2 separate regions of the Homo sapiens genome follow, and region 2 is linked to region 1. Evidence: fine-mapped expression QTL. Tissue or cell type: whole blood. Region 1 holds a variant in brackets; the other region holds the start of a gene. All regions are shown on one strand. Distances are between the middles of the regions.

The links. PIP is the estimated chance that this variant, and not a neighbour inherited with it, causes the effect. A credible set is the group of variants that fine-mapping cannot tell apart.
Region 2: FAM3D starts here. The variant in region 1 is the best candidate, but not a certain one, in a credible set for the expression of FAM3D in whole blood (TOPMed, PIP 0.75).

What each region holds. Positions count from the first base shown.
Region 1 is chr3:58,702,685-58,707,833 of GRCh38, forward strand. LOC105377109 (a long non-coding RNA gene) reads left to right here. Exons shown (of 3, transcript XR_940879.3): 3 at 3,238-3,400. Among named protein-coding and RNA genes, the nearest start is that of FAM3D, 38 kb to the left of the region's middle. The variant C/A (reference allele first, on the strand shown) is at 2,278.
Region 2 is chr3:58,664,436-58,669,584 of GRCh38, forward strand. It overlaps FAM3D (FAM3 metabolism regulating signaling molecule D), which reads right to left and starts at 2,339. Exons shown (of 10, transcript NM_138805.3): 1 at 2,141-2,339. LOC105377109 (a long non-coding RNA gene) reads left to right here and starts at 198. Exons shown (of 3, transcript XR_940879.3): 1 at 198-498; 2 at 3,118-3,473.

The DNA of each region.
Region 1 (5,149 bases):
TGAGAAAGTGAACAGACCCTGTCTTAGTTTGTTTGGGTTTCTATAGCAAAGTACCATAACTGGGGAGCTTATGAGCAACAGAAAATTATTTCTCACAGTTCTGGAGGCTGGAAAAGTCCAAGATCAAGAGGCCAGCAGATTCAGTGTCTGGTGAGAGACCATATTCTGGTTCATAGATGGCACCTTCTTGCTGTGTCCTCACACGGCGGAAGAGATAAGAGGTCTTTCTTGGGCCTCTTTTGTAAGGGCTCTAATCCCATTCTTGAGGGCTCTGCCCTAATGACCTAATTATTTCCCAAAGCCCCCCCATCCCATTCCCCCAGCCTTGGGGTTTAGAATTTCAACCTATGAATTTTGGAAAAACACAAACATTCAGACCATAGCAAATGCTTTCAGTTTTTCAAGGATCTTCCACCATAAGTATCCTGCTTCATTTTTAAAATCACCCTGAGAAATGGAGAAAATATAGTCTGGTTGATTCACACTCAGGTCCTGGAGTTAAACAGAATCCTGTCTTTGCCATTAGCTAGCTGCGGTGATGTGAAACAAGTTAATTTACCTCTCTGATCCTCTGTTTCTTTATCAATAAAATAAGAACAATAAGATTCCCTATTTCATGGAGCTTACTTTGTGGTTGCCCTGTGAAGAGGGCAGGATCAACGACCCCCAACCCCGAATTGGTTCAAATATTGAAATTGATGATGTCACAAGTGCACCAAAAGTGGAGGAAAATATTTTTTACTCAGTTCATGAGTCTTTTTGGGAGGGTTTGGGAGGCACCCAAGTTGGTCTGAAAATGGCTCAAAGTGGCAGTGCCTTTGGTTTTTATTGTGGTTAGAAGATGGGGCTGGGATTTGAGTTCCTACAATCACACACAGCTTGACTTTTGCACAGCTTGACTTTTCCCACTGGTGCCAAGGGAGGGAGTATTTGGGCTTTCTTATCAGCTTGCCCAGACTTGGGGCAAAGGGAACGGGAATGGTGGAAGCTTGAAAACTGTCAGCAGTCAAACATAAAAAATGACATCTATGATAGAGTTGTTATGAGAAAATATCTGCCTAAAGCACTGAGCTCAGTGCAGTGTTACAGTAAGTGGTTAATAAACAAATTATTAATGTCATGATTGATTTAATCATTTTCAGAAGCTTTTGCATCTATGACCTCATTTCCTCTGCATATTAACCCAAGAAATTGAGAGATCTGATCAGAAGTAGATCTGGTAAAATTAAAGCACTCAATGAGTGGTTGCTTCTGGCATCACTATCACCATTCCCATCATCACCATCATCATCAACTTTGTCATTATCACCATCACAATCATCACCACCACCACCACCATCATCACCAGCTTCATCATCAGCATCATCATAAGAATCAGATCATCACCACGATTACTTTTGCCACAATCATCATGAGCATCACCAACACCATGATTGCTATCACTACCACCAGTGTCCCATTGTTGTTACCATCATGATCATCATTATCACCATTGCCTTCATCACAATCTCCACCACCAGCATCATCACTAATATAAGATTTCTTTTAGATTATCCACCTTTTTGTGTAAAAAGTAAAGTAGAGGTTTCTCTTTTCTTCCCTGTCTAATTAGGTATAAATAGTAACTTCTCTTAGAAGCAAAATTTATTCAAAGACCTGTGCTAACATTCTTAGATATCTGCTAGCCATAATAAAGAAATCAATGTGCTTTGTGTTCTTAGCTCCCACAATTTAGCCTAAATATTTGCCCTGGCATGCTTATGCTGGTCCAAACAAGCATTAGGTCATAGCCTGTTCCTCTTCCTTATTTGGAGGGTTTTCACCTTTCCCAGCATTCCATAAGTTACTTCCTCCTTCCTTTGTTCTCCTCTGCCTTTGCCTCTTTAGAAAGTTCTAAGCTGCTAGCCAATCAGGACAAATACAGAATGTGAGGTTCCATTCCAGCCAATGGAAACCGGACACAGCAGTAGGGTGGACGTGTCAGGTTATAAATATCCATTTATATTTATATATATATGCTGGCCCACCAGCATCCATTCCTGCAGCAATTAGCTAAGACTGGAGGGTGGGCCATGTTCCCTTCAGGCCACCTTGCCCATTCATCATGGACTGAAAGAAAACTTCCTTTGAAAAGGGGTTGGGGGAGTTTCCCTGGAGGTGTTCAGGCAAGAAGGAAATGACCGTTAGAGGAAAAGATGGGCCTCTCTACTGTTGTTAATGGCTAAATAAATACACTGAAGTTGGCTCACAGCTGCAGTAACCACACCACCTGAGGAA[C/A]CTGTTGGCCACAATGGAGGCTCTGTCATATGTGTAATGCCTAGACACCCACATAGATAAGTCCCAAAAACGTGTTGCAATGAAAAAGAACACAGCCAACACCATCAAAAGTGCTTTCACAAATAACTCAGCTCCTTTATTTGTATGATTTTGAGTACTTTGATGATGACACTCTTCACTGATATTCTTGAAATCCTGTTTTATAAACCTGTGCCATTCACTCTCTCATGACCCAGTTCTCTACATCTACCTCTCTCCACACACACAAAACCAAAGCCTCCTTCAGCCTCCTCCCTGACTGCCTCCTGTTATCTTGCCTCCCTTTTCTTCTTCATTCTCTCATCATGAAAGCCAGAGAACCCATCTGGCTGGGCCAGGCACTTCTCAGAGGGTGGAGTCAGGAAATGGGTTGCGATGGTTAATTTTATGTGTTAAGTTGGATGGGTCACAGTGCCCAGATAATTGTTCAAACATTATTCTGGATGTTTCTGTGATGGTGTCTTTTTGGATTAGATTTACATTTAAATCGGTGGATCTTAAGTAAAGCAGATTACGCTCCCTAATGTGGATGGGCCTCTGGGCCTCATTTAGTCATTTGAAGGCTGTATGGAACAAAGACTGATTTCCCCTGCCCAAAAAGGATTCTGCCAGCAGACTGCCTTGGGTCTCACTGCAACTCTTCCCTGGACCTCCAGTCTGTGGTCTATCCTGGAGATTTTAGGCTTACCAGGCCTCCATAATAATGTAAGCCAGTTTCTGAAATTAAATCTCTCCCTCTATACACACATCCTGCTGCTTCTGCTTTTCTGGAGAGCCCTGACTAATTCATGGCCCAAGCCTGAATTCTCTTTTCTGGGCAGGGGACGAGGAAAGTCTGGTAATACATCTACAGTTAATTTTAATGACATCACAGGTAGAAAGATTCTGGAAACTGACTTTTTTTTTTTTTCCCCTCTGCAGGTGCAGATCATATTTTCTGCTTAGAGCAGATTCCTTCCTGGGCAGACATTGAGCACACAGCCAGCTGCAGTGGGCACCAGAGACATTGCGTCCTTTCTACTCTTCATGTCCTGATCCCAGTGATAATCTTTGAGGCCCCAGTCGGTGGTTCTTTTTTTTTTTTTTTTTTTGAGATGGAGTTTTGCTCTTTTGCCCAGGCTGGAGTGCAGTGGTGCGATCTCAGCTCACTGCAACCTCCACCCACCAGGTTTAAGTGATTCTCCTGCCTCAGCCTCCCGAGTACCTGGGATTATAGGCATCTGCCAGCATGTGCAGCTAATTTTTGTATTTTTGGTAGAGACAGGGTTTTGCCATGTTGGCCAGGCTGGTCTCAAACTCCTGGCCTCAGGTGATCCACCTGCCTCGGCCTCCCAAAGTGCTAGGATTACAGGCATGAGCCACCATGCCTGGCCCAGTAAGTGGTTTTTAATGAGGGTGATTTTGCCCCCTTTGGGTACATTTGGAATGTCTGGAGACATTTTTGATGATCATGCCTGGGAGGTGGATAGTGTTACCGGCATCTAGTGAGCAGAGGCCAGGGATGCTGCTATATATCCTAGTATAGGTACAAGCCCACTGCCACTCCCTAATGAAGAATTATCTAGCTCAAAATGTCAAAGGCACTTGAACCAGAGTGACTCCATCTTGAATAGGGACTCAGTAAAATGAGGCTGAGACCTGCTGGGCTGTATCCTCAGGAGGTTATGCATTTGTAGTCACAGGATGATAGGAGGTCACAAGATACAGGTCACAAAGATTCCACTGATAAAACAGGATGCAATAAAGAAGTCTGCCAAAATTTGCTAAAACCAAGATGGCAGCAAAAGTGATCTCTAGTCATTCTCACTGCTCATTATATGCTAATTATAATGCATTAACATGCTAAAAGACACTCCTACCAGCACCATGACAGTTTACAAATGCCACAGCAACATCCAGAAGTTACCCTATATGGCCTAAAAGGAAGAGGAACCCTTCATTCTGGGAAATCCCTGCCCCTTTCCTGGAAAACTCATGAATAATCCACTACTTATTTAGCATATAATCAAGAAATAACCATAAAATTAGCCAACCAGAAGCCCTCAGGGCTTTTCTGTCGATGGAGTAGTCATTCTTTTATTCTTTTGCTTTCTTAATAAACTTTCTTTCACTCTAGTCTGTGGACTTGCCCCAAATTCTTTCTTGTGTGAGATCCAAAACCCCTTTCTTGGGGTCTGGATCAGGTCCCCTTTCTGGTAACAAAAATGTCAATAGTGCTAAGGTTGAGAAACCCTAATTAAGGTAATTAAATAATAGATAAAAAAGACATTCCTTTCAATCCTACCTTCCAAAAAATGCACACACACTCTCTCTTTCCTTCTCTTTCTCTTTCTAAGATCACTTTGTAAGCTGAGAGAATTATGACAGAGACTGGAGCGACAGCATTTTATTTCACTGTATCTCTGTCCTTTAACACCTCAGTGCTCCCAGCCCCAGGCCTCTTGTGTCCCAGCATAAAATCTGTGAGATTTAAACATATACTATGAGATGCCTTATAAAACATACAGAATATGATCTGACAAGGTCCTTTGACAATGCCCTCTTTCGCACAAAATCTTCAGGCAGTAATTCAATTTCGAGGCTTTTCTCCTATTGAAATACGGTGTGTGACACTACCCAGGCCCTGGACTGCAGCACAATCTTCAGCACTGGGCATTTTTTTTCCTGGGTAATGGATTTTATTTCACCAAAAATAAGCATTAAAAGGCTTCCAAGGGGACACCATTGTGCTTACTGATTTTTTTTTTTCTTTGGAAAATGTGAGATGTTGCTGCATAATGACAATAATCATTAACTTTAGGTTTATTCTGGGGTTAATGAATTATTATAGTGC
Region 2 (5,149 bases), 38 kb before region 1:
CCATGCAGACTGCCTGGTGCATAGAAGGTGCACAGCTTGGACAACAGCACTGTCCTATATTGTGCACCTACTACGTGGCAAGCATCATGGTAGATGCTTTGCACACATTGTCTTTTTCAAAATGCACACTGTCAAATCCCAAAGAACTTATTACCGTCCTCATTCTTTTGAGATAAGGGAGGGTCAGACAAGCCAATAAGATAGGCAACTTGCCTAAGGTCACATGGTTGGAAAAAGGGCAGAACTGGGATTCAAATGCCAAAGGCAGGGTTGCTCTCCCCACAACCTCTATGTCTTTGTCTCCCCAGGCCACACCCTTGGGGGAGCAAACCTCTGAGCCTCCAGAAGCAAGGGATTGGCACCAACTGTAGGAAATGTCTGCTCCGCTCCAGGGCACCTGCCCTCTGGGACTGCAGGCTGGGTGGGGGCTGCCAGTCCCCCAGGCAGGCTTGTCGGCTGCCCACTTGAAGTCTCACCAGGACTGCCAGTAGTAGACAGGTAGGTCTCCTCCAAGGGGGAGCAGCTGCCCCAGCACCAGGAAATGTTGGCAAATGATGACTTCGAGCATCCCCCACCGCAGGGAAGTGCCAATGAGGAAGTTAGGCCCCTGGGTTCTGGAGGCTTCAACATTCCTATGGGAAGCAGCAGGGTCTGTGTGTAAAGATGGAGTTGAGCTCAGGAAGAGGTGTGCACACCATGGCCATAAGACAGAAGCCCCTAAACCTCCAGGTGCCCAAGGGCAGACAGGCAGATGCACAGATTTGGGCAGATGCTGAGCAATGGCAAACTCCTCCCTAGCCTGTGCAGACCTGGGCGCAACAACCTCACTGACTTCACCTTCCACCACCAGCTACTACCCCTTTCCTGCTTGAGCTGCTCTGCCCTCCTCTTTCTTTCCTCCTGTTCCCCCTTCTCAGAGATTCTCCACTGACCCAATCTTTTCCTCCCCTGCCCTTCACTCCTGAAGGACCCGGCATTCTCTTGGGAGAAGTCTGCCCTGACTCCCAGGCTATCTCCATGGTGTATGTCAAACTGTTTTGAAAATGACTATCTGTGCAAGTTTTCCCTTTCTGGTTAGAACCATGTATGATACCTCATCTTGTTAATCATTGTGTCTTTTTTACCTGACCCAATTAATGCTCACTGGATGAATCATCTAGAAGGACACTCTTGTACCCAGGCAGCCCACTTCCAGCCATGGACTCAGAATCCACTGCAGTGTAGAGTCAGTGTGGCATAGTGGGCAGGAGCAAAAGCTTTGCAGCCAGATTGCCTGGGGAAGTTATTAAATCTCTCACTGCCTTGGCTCTCCGTCTGCAGAGTGGGAATAATCATGGTGCTTTCCTTGTAGAGGTGATAGGAAGATTAAATGTGTTATTATATGGAGAGCACTTAGCACATCATACATGTTATTTTATGTACTTCAGTGATGATTATCATAGTTGCGTAGACAATGAGAACTTCAGCGATTGATGGGGGATATTCAGACTCTCTCTCCCATTTTACAGATGAGGAAACTGAGTCTTAGTGAAAGGGACTAGCTCAATATTACATAGCTAGAAAATCTCTCAAGTCCATGCACCTTTGTCATAACTTTTCAGATCATTACCTTATGAGAAAAATGAGATTTGGGGCCAAAGAACAACATTCCTTTCTTTTTTATTCATTTTTCAAATATTTGTGTGGCTCACTGTTGATCATTGGAATGTGTTTTTTTGAATCAATAGATGAGTGAATGAAAGAATAAATGTTGAGGGGCCCCTGTGGTTAAGGAAAAAACCCTGCAGTGTGGGTTATCAAATCCCTAGCTGGCATGCCCTACAGCTCCTTCTTGTGCCCATGGCAGACATAGCTAATCAATCATAGCATGCTTTTGCCTGAGCCCGAACCCAGCCCCAGAATCCTTTTTATCACAGTCTAATTTCATTGATCAGGCCTGGTGCCTCAGATGAAATCTATTTGCCTTCCTGAGTCTGATCTCAGGAATCTCTTCGATTATGTGGTTTCCTTCTTTCTTTCCTTTCATCATTCTGTCTCAGGCTCTTTCACTCCTATTTCCCACCCTCCCCACCTCCATTTTCCCCTCTGTCAATCATGTGTACCTGGAACCATAGCCCTTTCCATTCTTGGGGGGACGTACCCGAGGGCTCGAGGCTCCCACTTCCCTGCTTCGATGGAGAAGGCGAGGTGGTCCAGCAGGTGCCGTAGGTCCCTGACCCAGCTGACCACCACCCTGGGCCAGCTTCTGACAGTCCCACCTCCCAGTTGCTGGAGGGGTAGTGGCCTCACAGACGGCCCTCCTCTAGATGCAGTGGGCCCAGAGGGTGAGACGGAGTGTTGCGGGCCGCCAGTGGGCCAGCTGCTCCTGCCCTGCGCAGGCTCTGCCCCTCCTTTGAGGAAGTTTGCCATCAACTCTCCCTGCCCTGTTAAACAATCTCACAAGGAAGGAGGAAGTTTATTCTAAGTGCTCACGGGGCAGGAAATGAGTCTAAAGTCTTGCCTGGCTGAGGAGTGGCTTAGGGCCTGGCTGGGGCCTGGGGAGAAGGGCCATGCCTGTTCCCTTCCTGTAGAGCTATCCTGACCTTGGCAAGGGAGGTTTGGGTGGGAATTCAAGCAACTTAATCAGGAATGAGATACCACAATCTGCCTTCGAAAACAGCCAAAAAACCTTACAAAAAACCCGACCCTGTGCTAACAACCTCCCCAGGCGCTGGGAGGTGTGGGGCTGGTAGAGCGAGTAACTGCAGCTGATGATCACCTGCTTTGAGGTTCTGGACTAGAGTGTGGGGGGGTGCTGGAGGGGCTGACTGGAAAGAGGGGAACCCAGGCAAGAAACTCAGGACAGGAAAGATGGAGGAGGTCAAAGGCAACTGCAAGATATTGAGCTTGGATGATGGAAAAGGGAGGCTTCTTGGTCAAGAGTGAGGAAGATGGGGGAGAGGAAGTGGTTTGGGAAAAGATTCTGGATTTGGGTGGGGCATATTGAATTAGAGGTTAAAGGTGGAGGGGGTGGGGTGTGGAGAAAGGGAAAGACGGAGAAAGAAAAGAAGGGCTGCTCAGTGGCAGACTTTTAGTGAAATGGTGAATGCAGCCTTTGTCTCCCTTCTCTCTCCTTAGGACCCAAGGTGCACTGAGAGGGGCTCAGCTTCCCCCTCCCCTGATCCAGCACTCCCAGTCTTTGTCACAAATCATGGTCTCTTTCCCAAGCGCTTTCCTCTTAGGAGGAGTTCTTGCCTCGGTCCTTGGCACACAGGCTCCTGGCAACTTCCTCCCTTGTTTGCTGACTCTGAATGCTTCCGTAGGCTGTGTGGCCCACTTGGAAGGAATATTCAGGGGCATGAGGTCCAGCAGCTGGTCAGGAAATGAAGATGCATGCCCAGGGAGCTGGTGCAAGGGAAGAGCAGGGAGCGGACCCTGTGTGATGAGGTGCCGGGAGTGGCCCCAGTTCTGCTGTTCCAGCTGCCCATCCCCAGGTAGGCACGTGGGCCCCCTCAGGATGTATCCCAGGGCGAGGCAGTGCTTTCCTTCACTCTGACTGGCTTTAGGACTGGTCCTGTCCTCTGTCCCATCTCCTTGCCTCTTGCTCTCCCTTATTCTGCTAGGACGGTTCTGCCCATAACTGGTGCCTGGGTCTTGTTCAGACCTGACCTGCAGTGTCACTTCCTCAGGGGGGCCCTCCTGACCCTCACTTCCAATATAAATAAGCACACAAGTGTAGGGGAGTAAAAATGGCTTTCTCTACCCTTCTAGCTGCCTTGGCTGGTCAGGAATTAAACTGACAGCAGGGAGAATAACAGGAGAAAAGGTACAGACATTTATCACATGCATGGGGGCATCCCAGGAAAGAAAAGGAATTCCCCACACCCAGTAAGATTTAGAAGCTTGTATACCCTCTTCACAAGGGAGAGAGGGGTGGGGTGTCAGCACCGTAGTGGAGAGTAAATGATTTCTGGGGAAGAGGAGTGGGCCCTCAGCAGGACAGGTGACGACAGCCTGTGACAAAGGCTATCTGGACGTAGTGTGGACCTTTAGACTCCTGTGAAACGAGCCAGTCCTTCCGGCTGATGAGATTCCCTGGGCGGAGATTCATGGCCACTGCGTTTGCTCTGGACAATCTGTCTTTAGACAGAAAAGGAAAACTCGGAAAGCCCCTCCCTGCAGTTGCTGTTCCCCAAGTGACCTCAGTTCAAAGTCTCAAAGTGGCATATTTTGGGGAGTTACTTCGGAACTCCTTCACAAGCAAATCATTTAAAATTGAGACATTCTGTGAAAGAACCCATGAAAGTGATTCCAGGAGAACTTTCCTCAGCAGGTGGTCAGGGAAGGCCTCTCTGAGGAGGGGTGCTTTGAGGAGCTGCAGTAACAAACAAACACAGACCAGCAGCTTCATAACACAGCTGTGAAGCTAACCACTCTGGAGGGCAGGAGCTTGATATGGGTCTCACTGGGTTGGAATCACGGTGCTGGCAGGCTTGCATTCCTTTCTGGAGACTCCAGAAGAAACATTTTTTGTCTTTTCTAGTGCCTAGAAGCCACCTGCATTTCTTGGCTCATGGCCCCTTCCTCCATCTTCAAAGCCAGCAATGTTGGGTCTCCATGACAATTCTTCCTTCCTTACATCTCCCTCTAACTCTTTTATGCTTTCATCTTCCACTTTTAAGGACCCGGTGACAACACTGGGCCCACTTGGATAATCCAGGTTACTCTCCCTATCCTAAGGTCAGCTGATCGGCAACTCTAATTCCATTTGAGACCTTAATTCCCCTTTGCTCAGTTATGTTATATATTCGCATGCTCTGGGGATCAGGATGCAGACCTAATCCCATTAGGGGGCCAAGAGTCTGCTAATCACAGGTGCAATTTTGTTTCCTTTTCGTTATCGAACTTAACAGCCTGAAATGATATTTCCTGACTATTGTTTACTTGTCACCTGTCTCACTCTTCTGGAAAGCGAATCCCAAGAGGGCAGGGATCTTGCAGGTGCTGCTCATTCACCCCTGTAATCCCAGCACTTTGGGAGGCTGAGGCGGGCGGATCATGAGGTCAGGAGATTGAGACCATCCTGGCTAATACAGTGAAACCCCATCTCTACTAAAAATACAAAAAATTAGCCGGGCTTGGTGGTGGGCACCTGTAGTCCCAGCTACTC